Linked DNA regions of Homo sapiens: all the other regions are reported to be linked to region 1. The links are microRNA targets in miRTarBase. Many come from high-throughput screens and were not tested one by one. Region 1 holds a microRNA gene; each other region holds the end of a gene's coding sequence.
The links. Region 1 holds the annotated microRNA hsa-miR-548z (CAAAAACCGCAAUUACUUUUGCA, at 1,037-1,059, shown strand). A microRNA usually pairs through its seed, bases 2 to 8, with sites in the 3' UTR of a target mRNA and lowers its output. Matches are read on the target gene's strand: a 7mer-m8 pairs with bases 2 to 8, a 7mer-A1 pairs with bases 2 to 7 and ends in A, and an 8mer does both.

Region 1 (3,185 bases):
AGAAAAGCAATCCACAAGCCTGTCTGAACAAACAGAAACAGACCTTAAATGGACAAACGTAATATTGTTTCTTTATACCATCTACATAATATTTACATTTTCCCATAGCTGGGAAATTACTCACTACAGTCAAGTACCCCTAAATTTACCTCTGGCATGTCATGAAACCTGCATCTGCTTAAGGCCTAAACGGATAAACGTGCTAGTTAAATTTCTCATCTCAGAGTTCCTCTGAAATTAAAGTCCAATAAAATCAACTGAATTTTAATTCCCTTGGAATGCCCTGTTAACTGTAAAACACTAAGAAATGCTAAAGTTAATTTTGGTACTGGTACTTTTCCTCCTACGTGATATATTTAACTATGTTGTTTTCTATTTTCATTTAAAAAAATTTTGCTCCTATGACTTTGCTGGCAAAATATCAAAAAAGATTCCTCGAAACAAGCATTTGTAGAAAATTTTCACGGTGGCCGGGCGCGGTGGCTCATGCTTATAATCTCAGCACTCAGGGAGGCCGAGGCAGGCGGATCACCTGAGGTCAGGGGTTCGAGACCAGCCTGACCAACATGGTGAAACCCCGTCTCTACTAAAAATACAAAAATTAGCTGGGCATGGTGGTATGCGCCTGTATTCCCAGCTACTGGGGAGGCTGAGACTGAAGAATCACTTGAACTCAGGAGATGGAGGTTGCAGTGAGCCAAGATCGTGCCACTGTACTACAGCCTGGGCAACAGAGCAAGACTCCATCTCAAAAAAAAAAAGAAAGAAAAAAGAAAATTTTCACAGTAAGCTTGTTTGAATTAAGAAATTGGGGATTAAGGAGGGCTCATAATCTATCAATCATAAAGTCAGAAGTAACTCTTCACATCTTTTTAAAAGATTCACTTGATAAAAAGATTCTGAAAGAAAAAATTTAAAGTAGGAGTTAATCAGAATAAAAGAGATTAAGCAACAATTTTCTACTTAGGCTTCAACAAGCCTGAAAGTATTAAGTTGGTGCAAAAGTAATTGAGATTTTTGCTACTGAAAGTAATGGCAAAAACCGCAATTACTTTTGCACCAACCTAATAGATGCCAATGCCGATTCCTTTCTCATCGCAATTTTTCAACAAAAGACAGTAAGCCTATAAGTAAACAGTATAAATTATCTTTGGTGGGTAAGGTTTCCAGCAGTTTGTCCTACCATCCTTTTTTCAATACCTAGTATACTTACAAAATAAGTTAGGACTGGCCAGGCACGGTGGCTCACACCTGTAATCCCAACACTTTGGGAGGCCAAGGCAGGCGGATAACGAGCTCAGGAGTTTGACACCAGCCTGACCAACATGGTGAAACCCTGACTCTACTAAAAATACAAAAAAAAAAAAAAAAATAGCTGGACATGGTGGTGCATGCCTGTAATCCCAACTACTCAGGAGGCTGAGGCAGGAAAATAGCTTGAATCTGGGAGGCAGAGATTGCAGTGAGCCAAGATCGCGCCACTGCACTCCAGCCTGGTGACAGAGCAAGACTGTCAAAAAGATAAAAATAAATAAGTTAGGTTCTTCTAAATTCTACCAGAGTGGTTGGAAAACAAGCCCTAAATTTATTGAAATTCAAAGATAAACAGGAACTTCTAGTCACCCTTTTTTTTAAAACACATGGTTAGTAGAAAACACATCACCCAACTCCCCACCTTCTGAATCCCACGGGTTTATTTATGGTGATGCTTTCTTAGCAATGCCTTTCCCATGTTGTAACTACAGGAGTAATAAGTATTTTTCTGAGTTTCAGTGATGTCAGCCTGAAACACATTCTGAAGTATTTCAAAATGCCTGGGCCGGGCACGGTGGCTCACGCCTATAATCCCAGCACTTTGGGAGGCCCAGGCGGGTAGATTACCGGAGATCAGGAGTTCGAGACCATCCAGCCTGATCAATCCTGTCTCTACTAAAAATACAAAAATTAGCCGCGCATAGTGGCGCATGCCCATAATCCCAGCTACTTGGGAGGATGAAGCAGGAGAATCACTTGAACCTGGGAGGCGGAGGTTGCAGTGAGCCAAGTTCGCACCATTGCTCTCCAGCCTGGGCAACATGACCGAAACTCCATCTTAAAAAAATGAAAGCCTGAATATGTAATATCCTTTTGGTACAAACAGTGTAAGTCAAAAAAAACCCTGAAGTTCAGCTGACCTCAAAAAAGCAGAACCATCTACCAAGCTAAAAATGCACAGACTCAAGCAGTGCTCTCTCAAGATTTTGCCTACCTAATAGACAAATGGGCAAAGGTCATGCATGGACAATTCTCACACAAGGGAGATTTACTCAGAAGTATTTAAAAAGTATTAAATTCACAGTTAATTAAAGGAATGTGCCAGGCGCAGTGCCTCACGTCTGTAATCTCAGCACTTTGGGAGGCCGAGGTGGGTGGACCACCTGAGGTCAGGAGTTTGAGACCAGCCTGGCCAACATGGTGAAACCCCATCTCTACTAAAAATACAAAAATTAGCAGGGCGTAGTGGCAGGCGCCTGTAATCCCAGCTACTTGGGAGGCTGAGGCAGGAGAATCTCTTGAACCTGGGAGGCGGAGGTTGCAGTAAGCCAAGATCGCGCCATTACACTCCAGCCTGGGTGACGAGTAAAACTCCACCTCAAAAAATAATAATTTAAAAAATAATAATAAAGGAATGTAAATTAAATAGCAATAAGGTGCCTTTAGTTATTGAAGTTTTTTTTCTCTATTTTAATGACTATATCCAATGGAAGTAAGGGTGTAATGAAACTTAAAAATAGACATAAATTGGCAATATATAACTAGAATCATAAAAAGTCACACCCTCATAATTAGTAAAATTCCATTTTTGTACAACTATCCTATAAAATTAATCCATAATGGAAAAGGTTTCATGCTCAAGGTATTTATTAGTGCTATTTACAGTAGCAAAAATTAGAAACCTCCACATTTTCCAATATTTGGGAATAACGCCAATTCAATAAAATACAATGTAGACAACAAAATGACAGCTGAAATCAAGCAGCAGTATTCCATAATCCTGGGTTTAAATAAGGATTCAAATTTGTCAGTATAGTATTCCTCAAAAAATTAAAAACAGAATTACCATATGATTCTATAGCAACTGTTACTTATGGGTATATATCGCAAAAAGTTTTAAGAGGGGTCTTTAAGAGATATTTGTACACCCC
Region 2 (3,185 bases), not on the chromosome of region 1:
TCACTCGTAAAGCTGTTGGCAGGCTTCATGTCCACGCTGGCTGTTGGCCAGAGACATCAGTTCCTTGCCTGGTGGGCCTCTGAAAGGGCAGCTCACAACATGACAGCTGGCTTTCCTCAGAGCAAGCCAGGGAGAGAATAAGAAGGAAGACAAGCAAGATGGAAGCCAGAGTTTTGGAATCTAATCTGAGAAGTGATACCCCATCACTGATGATATATTCTATTATTTAGAAATGTGTCATTTTAGCTCCACCCACACTCAAGGACAGGAAATTACACAAGGCATTAAATACCAGGAGGCAAGGATCACTGAGGACAATATAGATGCTGTCTACCATGGAACGGAAAAGCAAAAGCTGTTTTTTTCCTAATACGTAGACAATGCCAAAGAATCATACTAAATGTTTAGAATTAACAAGTCTAGCAAGGTTCACTGTAAACAAAACTCAGGAAAAATCAGTTTTATACCATACAGAAGCAACAAACACTATAAGGAAATTTACAACACCAGCATTTACAAAAGAATTAAACGTCAACATTGATCAGCTGAGTAACTGTTGAAACAGGAAATGGGTACTACAGTCTTTGAAAATTTTGATACTTTTTTTAAAGTATCAAATACTTGGGAACAAATCTAACAAAAGATTTGTAAATCTTCACAGAAAAAAGCAACTTTTTTTCTCATTTATTTCAAATAAAATGGAAAGGTAAACCATGGTCATGGACTAGAAGACCTAATATTGTAGACAGCAATTCTCTGCAAATTGATTTATACATATAATACAATCAAAATTAAAAAAAAAAACTCAACAGGGTGAGTGTGTGTCTCTGCATGTGTGTGTGTGTGTATGCAGGCTTGACAATCTGATACCAAAATTTGTACAAAGACGAAAAAGTCAAAAAAATGGAAAAAAATGTTCAGCCATATTAATAATCATGGAAATGCAAAATAAAACCATAATCAGACACTATTAATAACCACCACATTGACAACATTTCAAACTCTGACGATAGCAAGTTTCGGTGAGGATATTAAACAAAAGGAGTTCTCATACACTGTTAATGGGAGCGTTAATTGGGACAACCACTTTGGATAACTGCTATTATCTATTCATCAATTTCACACTTAATTGGTGCTTATGTTTTATGATCTCTCCATAAATATGTTATATTTTTTTAAAAAAGTAATCTTAAAAAAAAAAGGAAAGAAAACAACCACATATACTTCCAAAGACAAGCAACAGGAAAAGAGATTCTGAAAAATAAACTCTACCTCGGAGTGAAAATAGAGCAGAAAGAAGAATTATTCTTGGCTCTAAACAGAATGCCAAAGTCTGAGAATGAATCCTGAAACACTAAAAATCTCCCATTACATTATGTATTTGGAATGTAAGGTGGTACCCAAACCAATAGGAATACTTTGGTCCATTTTTAAAAGCAAAATCTGCATCAGATGTAGGAGGTATTTTGCTACAAGAGAACAGGAGCAAATCTTAAGTGCAAGGAAAAATCAGTCCAAGGAGTACTGTAAGCCAATTAGTGGGTGTTGCTCTCAGCTTTCTGGGTAATTGCGCTCAGAGGAAGACTTTCAGATGCTCCATAATCCAAGTGCACCACAATTTTACAAAAGGACAAAGCAATGCTAAAAAATTGGCAAAGTGCTCACCTAAAGACCAGTCAGTACAAAAGCCCAAATCTTACTTTTCATTTTCTCATAGAAATAAATGACTGATGAAGACCATTGGCAAAGGCATTTGAGGATGCTCTCTAACTGATCTAAATAAATGCCAAAAAAGAAACACGAGGTATGGCATTTTTAAAAAAAATAAGTTTATTTACATTTCACTTACTTTCAAAAGGATGAAAATATATTTATAAAGGAAGTAGTCTCATTTTATTTAACCCATTTGCATTTGACTTAGAATCAGAGGTCTAAGGGTACCCAAAGAATTTATCCAGTTCAACTTTCCATTTTTAGCTAAGACTGAAATTATACCATTGCAGGCAGATGAAAATCTACTCCACTTATAGGTAAACATCAACTAATATATATGTTATAAAAACACTAGCTTTAGTAAAATCTGTCATAACATCCAATAAATCTGCAATAAAAGACATAGCTATCACAATATAAGACATTAAAAAATTTATGTGCAGCAATAAAAACTGGAATTTATACAGGAGAAATGATAATTGGCTACTAAGTCAATAGCATCACAGTAACAGTACCCAGTGTCTTTCTTATTCAAGTATACACGCTATTTTTAAGACTTAAAATTAAGTCTTAAGGCTATAATAAAGATATCAGTAGCTAGGATGTATATACACAATTATTTAATAAACACCATGAAAAAGAAAGCACAGAGATAAAAATACCCTTAAATTCTGTAGCAATTACAAACATGTTAACATTATCACTATATATTTGACTCATAAATTTTAACCAATTTATACACTTTAAAACTAGCATTGAGTTTTATAAAAATACTAATGGCCAAACATTTTTAAAAACTAAGGCAATCTTTATCTATATTTCAGTAGTCTTTGTTTTATGCTTTTCTTTCTTCCACCACCAAAGTCTTTCTCCTAACCACCATTCACTCAAAACAACAACAGTGGTCTCTAGCACCTGTTGCTGTGGAAGTATTATTACATTCGAAAACTTCTAGTTCTTTGAAATGGTTGGAAAGGCTTCTTTAGTGCCCACATTAGCAGCTGTGGTTTCGGTTTGGGTTTTTCAGGAAACAGAAGTGCTGCACTTTCTGGTGTAGGAAATCGTTCTTGATAGACTTCAGGATAGGATTTCTGAAACTAAAAAAATGAATGGTCCAAGAAGAGTAAAAAAAGACACATAAAAGCCAATAAAATTTGGCAGCCAAATTTTAAGAGTTTCTGAGCCTGTATTTTCCTGTTTTTGTTTATTTTTGTTAAAACATTTCATTCCAATTTCTATAGAGCTAATCCATCTTTCCTTTGATCTAAGCTTCAAATAAGTTCCCCTTTTAATCATGTTTCTGAAAATTCCCCCCACTGCCAACTATAAATAGACCTCACTTTTTATATATTCACAAGTAACTCTGACTTCAAAATAACTTCTGTTCTACACAGTTAAATAAAATTTTGGCCCAATTACATTTCATCATTTCTCTGTTTCTCCAACTCAGCCCCACCAGCTTCTGCTCAAAT
Region 3 (3,185 bases), not on the chromosome of region 1:
GTGGCACGATCTTGGCTCACTGCAAGCTCCGCCTCCCAGGTTCATGCCATTCTCCTGCCTCAGCCTCCCGAGTAGCTGGGACTACAGGTGCCTGCCACCATGCCTGGCTAATTTTTTGTATTTTTAGTAGAGACGGGGTTTCACCGTGTTAGCCAGGATGGTCTCGATCTCCTGACCTCATGATCTGCCCGCCTCGGCTTCCCAAAGTGCTGGAATTACAGGCGTGAGCCACCACGCCCGGCCTCACACTTTTAATCTCAGCAAATTGGGAGGCTGAGACAGGCAGATCACTTGAGGTCAGGAGTTTGAGACCTGCCTGGCCAACATGGTGAAACCGCCATCTCTACTAAAAATACAAAAATTAGCCAGGCATGGTGGCAATGCCTGTAATCCCAGCTACTCACTACTCAGGAGGCTGAGGCGTGAGCACTGCTTGAACCTGAGAGGCAGAGGTTGTACATCATGCCACTGCACTCCAGCCTGGGCAACAGAGTGAAACTGTCAAACAAAACACAACAAAACAGGCCGGGCGCAGTGGCTTACACCTGTAATCCCAGCACTTTGGGAGGCCGAGGCAGGTGGATCACCTGAGCTTTGGAGTTCCAGACCAGCCTGACCAACATGGAGAAACCCCGTCTCTACTAAAAATACAAAATTAGCTGGGCGTGGTAGTGCATGCCTATAAACTCAGCTACTCGGGAGGCTGAGGCAGGAGAATTGCTTGAACCCCAGAGGCAGAGGCTACAGTGAGCCGAGATTGTGCCATTGCACTCCAGCCTGGGCAACAAGAACGAAACTCTGTCTCAGAAAAAAAAAAAACAACACAAACAAACAAAAAAAACTTTCATTTCTACTTGATATTATTCAACAAATCAAGCAAATGATCAGGGAGATGCCTATCAGTTAAAGACAAAAAATGGCACCAATAGATACAGATATCTTATAACTGTCTTCAAAATATAAATTTGATAATGATCTACAATTACTAAAATTTTGCATGTGTCAGCTGGCTAAATGATTTTTTTTTTTTAAGAAAGAAAAGTAGGCCAGGCACAATGGCTCATACCTGTAATCCTAGCATTTTGGGAGGCCAAGGCAGGAGGACTGCTTGAGCCCAGTTTGAGACCAGCCTGGGTAACATGGTAAGATCCTGTCTCTACAAAAAATCAAAAAATTAGCCAGGCATTAATGGTCCCAGTTACTTGGGAGGCTGAGACAGGAGGATTGCTTGAGCCCAGGAGGTCAATCAAGGCTCCAGTGAGCCATGATTGTGCTACCACTACACTCCAGCCTGGACAACAGTGGTAAACACTGTTTGGAAAAAAAAAAAAGCACCAAAAGAGTAAACATGTGCAATGTGCAATTGAAGACCACTAGTATCTTCTCAGCGATTAAGGAAGTGACAACTTTAAGGATGATTTACAACCCTTTAGATACTAGATTCATTATGGAATCAGGAAAAATGTGTGCTTATAATCTTTCACCCAAATCAGAAGAATAGACTTAAATTATTCTTCATTACCCTGGTTCAAAATGAAATGACAGAAATCAAGACTTAAAGAGTAATTTTTTAAAAAGTGTATGTGTTTTTAATGTCACAAGGATTAACCAAATTAGACTATACAAAAATCTGTAAGGAAATGTAACACCAAGTGACATTAACACTTTAGTCTTATATTCTTTTAAGAAGACAACCCAACAAAATATGGCAGTTACTGAGTTAGTTAAAAGGATATTTATAAGGCCAGGTGCAGTGGCTCACGCCTGTAATCCCAGCACTTTGGGAGGCCGAGGTGGGCAGATCACCTGAGGTCAGAAGTTCGAGACCAGCCTGACCAACATGGAGAAACCCTGTCTTTACTAAAGAATATAAAAATTAGCTGGGCGTGGTGGTGCATGCCTGTAATCCCAGCTACTTGGGAGGCTGAGGCAGGAGAATCCCTTGAACCAGGAAGGTGGAGGTTGCGGTGAGCCGAGATGGCGCCATTGCACTCTAGCCTGGGCAACAAGAGCGAAACTCTGTCTCAAAAAAATAAAAACAATGTTTATAATAACTCATCTAGACCATATTTGGGGGGAAAAAGGACATTTATGCTATTGGGTTGCATGCCTCAATTCTTCACATCCCATTTTGTTTTTGCTTGCTTAAAACATACTTCTAAAAAGTGAAACTCAAATGTAAAAAGTTCCAATTCTGAGTTTGGTATACAGCAATAAAAATTTTATAAATACCTTCCAATTTCACATGTATGAATCTTTTCTTTGATTAAATACTTGTGCTGGAGTAAAAATTAAGATACTAACTCAACAAGAAAAGTTACAATGTGCAGAGTTAACATTAGACAATTCAGTTTCTTTCATTTTATTTTTCAGATGACTTCATTTCTCAGGACAGAATGACACAAACACAAGAAGCAGTCTCTAGGGCTGGCTGAGACCACATTTATCTGTTCTCCTAAAAGCACTAGCTCAGCTCCCAAAAGAAGAATTACAAATCTGAGAAGTTAGAGGAAAGGTACAGAATAGGAATTCTGATTAACAAGAAAAATCAATTAATGACATTGGTACTCTATTCTTCATATCAGTAATAATACAAACTCAGCCCTTTTAAATCAGAGAATCTGCCATTCTATATCTAATAAAGTAGCTTTACAACCCCTAAAGTAAAAGAATTACATGAAGGTGTAAACCAATTTGCCTCCTTTAGAGACACTGCAATATAGAAGAGGATTTTTTTTTTTTTGTAAGCTTCTCCTTCTCAGTTCTACAGGCTTCATGGTACTTCAGAGCCCCAATAATCAAGCAGTTCATGACAAAAGATAAAAGTGAAAAAGTAGACACAGAGATCTGTGAAGACTTCGCCCATTTTGCTATAGGTATCCATTGATCGATTTATCACTTCGGCAGGAATTCCCGACAATAGAAGTGCAGCTGTTAGTACTGTTGTCTTTATCTTCTTTTCACTCTGTGTAGAGAAAGACTCAAATTAATCTTCAAAGTTTCAGCAGGCTACATTAAGCTCTATACAAACATGATCAGTACTGCTGTTTTTAACCGAAATGATTTAAAAACTGTTAATGATGTTTCAAAACAATCAGTAAGATACCAACATTTACTGAGCATATAATATGTAACTCATCAATCTGCTAGGCAATAGCAGACATCAGTCTTGCTTTTTTTTTTTT
Region 4 (3,185 bases), not on the chromosome of region 1:
ATGGTTTTTCATCATTAGGTAGGGAAAAACTATCTGCTGAGAGGATGATTCTGGTTACTTTTACTAGTAGTGTTTTAAAGCAAGGGTCAGCAAACTGTGGCCTGTTTTGAAAATGAAGTTTATTAGAACATAGCAACAAGTAACATAACTCTCCTGGAGCACTTCAATACCTTTTGTTTGGACTATTATTTCTTAAATGAATGGCTGTCGGTTGACATGAACAACTTCGACTTGTAACTGAATTTTTCTTTTTCTTAAAACAGGAAAGATTCAGATGAGGCAGACTTGGTGCTGGCGAAAGAGGCAAATATGAAGTGTCCTCAAATTGTAATTGCTTTTTATGAAGAGAGACTAACTTGGCATTCTTGTCCAGAAGATGAAGCTCAATAATTGTTCACATTGTTCTTTTATATATATTTATATATATATATAAAAATTGGGTCTTAGATTTTGATTTACTAGTGTGACAAAATAACTACATCCTAATGAAAATCAAGTTTGATATGTTTGTTTTGAAAGTAGCGTTGGAAGAGTTGTTGGGGGTTTTTTGCATCCATAGCACTGGTTACTTTGAACAAATAAATAAAAGCTTTCTGTAGTTGCTTCCTTTATCAGAAAAGAACATTTGATACCATGGTATATCATTTCCTCTTCATTAAAGAACAGCTTTTCTAAATGTTGGGGGAAATGTCCATAGTCATTACTCAGTCAAAACTTGTGTTCTCATGAGCCTAAGGACCATTCTAGATTTATTACGTGTTTTTTGTGTGTGTGTGTGTGTGTGTGTGTGTGTGTATCCATAAAATGCATATGTAAATTTTTTTTTGTTTTTAAGCATTCACCCAAACAAAAAAATCACAGGTAAACCCATGTTTCTGAGATGCCATTATTCCAAGCAAAATAAGAGATAATCCCTTCAAGTTAAATTGAAAATTTTCCTGAAACCATACATTTCAAGTGAAATAAGTAATTCTAGATAGGACAATTTAAATTGGATAATTTTAAAGTGTCTATAATTGCAGTGGTTTATTTGCAAAATTCCTAAAAGGAAAAATTTTATCACTGCCATCACAGCAGGTTTCCTCATCCAGATGAGGAAACTAGACAAATGCTAGTGTGTTTTAACTAGCTAAACAAAACTAAGTTAAATGAACATTTAAAAGTTTCCCTAGCGGGCCATTCCTTAGCAAAATGTTGGAATCCCTGTTGCTACATTGACTAAAAGGTCATGATGAATGGAATATGTAAGACTTGGCTCATAGAAACCTAATCAGATGGTTAGAGGTGTTGGCAGTTTAGGACCTGCTGTCATAAATGTGTGAACAACCTTTTGTAACCTAACCTATTGACCTGCATGTTTTTTCTTTACCCCAATTCATTACATGGAGGCTCAATCTTGAGTTTGCTTTACTGGTTCAGCAAAAGCCAGGAAGAACAACTTTGTAGTAATCAAAATGTTATCCAACTGTATATTGTTTACTTTATTGTAAATACTGGTGAACAGTGGTTAATAAATAGTTTTATATTCCTTTATGCAATTATTAGACTTTTTTCTTTATTTGATATGCCTTTACAGTAGAAATAGAAATGCCCACACTCATTGGATTATCTTTGTTTATAAGTTAGATGATACCAGTAAGGCATTACAGTACATATCCTAGATCTTTTGAGCTTACGAGTTTTAAACTTGAATATGTATTTCCACAGGAATGTTTCCACAGTTGGGAAATAAAAGTTTCATGTGATGCCTAGGGTCAATTGTCTCATTAAAATGAGGTTTTAAATTCTGGTTTGTTGTAACTGTCTTCTAAAGAATGTAAAGTATTCTGATAGGGCTCAGTGTGATGATAGACACATTTTAATTGATTTCCAAAATCCATACAGAAAAAGGTAAATAACTGATGTTTATTAAGTACCTCCTTATATATATATATATATACCCACCACTGCTCTCAGCGGTGGGTTCACAGATGATAGAGAACCTTCTATTCATATTAGTAGTTGGTGGCCCTACATTCAATTTTACTAAGGGCATTTCTGAAAACAATATATTGTCCTTTGGCCATGCATGGTGGCACACACCTGTAATCCCAAAATTTGGGGAGGCCAACGCAGGAAGATTACTTGAATCCCAGAAGTTTGAGATCAGCCCGGGCAACAGTGAGACCCCCACCTCTACAAGAAATTTTAAAATTAGCTGGGTGTGGTGGCTTGCACCTGTAGTCCTTGCTACTTGGGAAGGTCCCTTAAGCCTAGGAGTTTAAGGTTACAGTGAGCTCTATGTCAATACCACTGTGCTCCAGCCTGGATGACAGACTGTTTCTCAAAAAATTTGAAAAATATTGTTTTTTTATATTCTCTAGTGTTTGTATTAGTTTCTTATTGGTGCTTTAACAAATTACCACAAATTTAACCCATTTATGGCTGAAAATAGTTCTGTAGGTCAGAAGTCCAAAATTAAGCAAGCTGAAGTCAGGTTATCAGGGGAATTCCTTCTGGAGGCTTTGATGGCAGAATCTTTCCTTCTCTCTTCCATTTCAAAAGGCCACGTATATTCTTTGGTTCCTGGCCCTTTCCATCTTCAGAATCAGCAAGCAGTGGAGCATCTTGCATCATCTTTCTCGCCCTTCCTCTCTTCCTCTTTCCATCTCTCCTGTCTACCACGGTGTATTATGGAAGGATTGAGCCAAACCATTCATTCAAATTCTTGAATTCCTGGAGCTTAGATCTTTAGCTGAAGAGAAAACCCTTTTTCTATCATTTCTACCCTCTGATGTTTATGTAATAGGCTTCTTGTAACAACTCAGATGCTACAGAAGTAAGGCCACCTCATCAATTTCCTTGCTTCAAACCCGAAGTTCAATTGATACCCATATCTCTGGATTTCAAGACCAGCCTGGCCAACATAACAAAACCCCCTCTCTACTAAAAATACAAAAATTAGCCAGGCATGGGGGTGTGTTCCTGTAATCTCAGCTGCTGTGGAGGCTGAGGCAGGAGAATTGCTTGAACCCAGGGAGCGGGGGTTGCAGTGAGACAAGATTGCACCATTGCACTCCATCCTGGGCGACGAGTGAAACTCAAAAAAAATAGTTTTTAACAAAAAATATATTTGCAATTTATATTTCACCCAGTTGTTATCTTGGGTCATCTTACTTAATAAATACACTAAAATATACTCTATT

Region 2: the mRNA of DEPDC1B is a reported target of hsa-miR-548z. Seed matches in the 3' UTR shown: 7mer-A1 at 2,505-2,511, 7mer-A1 at 2,160-2,166 and 7mer-A1 at 2,057-2,063.
Region 3: miRTarBase lists CAMLG as a target of hsa-miR-548z. Seed matches in the 3' UTR shown: 7mer-A1 at 2,034-2,040.
Region 4: miRTarBase lists CBX3 as a target of hsa-miR-548z. Seed matches in the 3' UTR shown: 7mer-m8 at 542-548 and 7mer-A1 at 827-833.

What each region holds. Positions count from the first base shown.
Region 1 is chr12:64,620,404-64,623,588 of GRCh38, reverse strand. It overlaps MIR548Z (microRNA 548z), which reads left to right and starts at 984; the gene lies at 984-1,080. All of the region lies in intron 1 of RASSF3 (Ras association domain family member 3), which reads right to left. MIR548C (microRNA 548c) reads right to left here and starts at 1,080; the gene lies at 984-1,080. RefSeq lists an enhancer at 1,999-2,158.
Region 2 is chr5:60,595,105-60,598,289 of GRCh38, forward strand. DEPDC1B (DEP domain containing 1B) reads right to left here. Exons shown (of 11, transcript NM_018369.3): 11 at 1,808-2,810. The coding sequence ends at 2,649. Among named protein-coding and RNA genes, the nearest start is that of DEPDC1B, 100 kb to the right of the region's middle.
Region 3 is chr5:134,750,539-134,753,723 of GRCh38, reverse strand. CAMLG (calcium modulating ligand) reads right to left here. Exons shown (of 4, transcript NM_001745.4): 4 at 1,567-2,965. The coding sequence ends at 2,774. Among named protein-coding and RNA genes, the nearest start is that of DDX46, 6.6 kb to the left of the region's middle.
Region 4 is chr7:26,211,819-26,215,003 of GRCh38, forward strand. CBX3 (chromobox 3) reads left to right here. Exons shown (of 6, transcript NM_016587.4): 6 at 264-1,789. The coding sequence ends at 390. Among named protein-coding and RNA genes, the nearest start is that of CBX3, 12 kb to the left of the region's middle.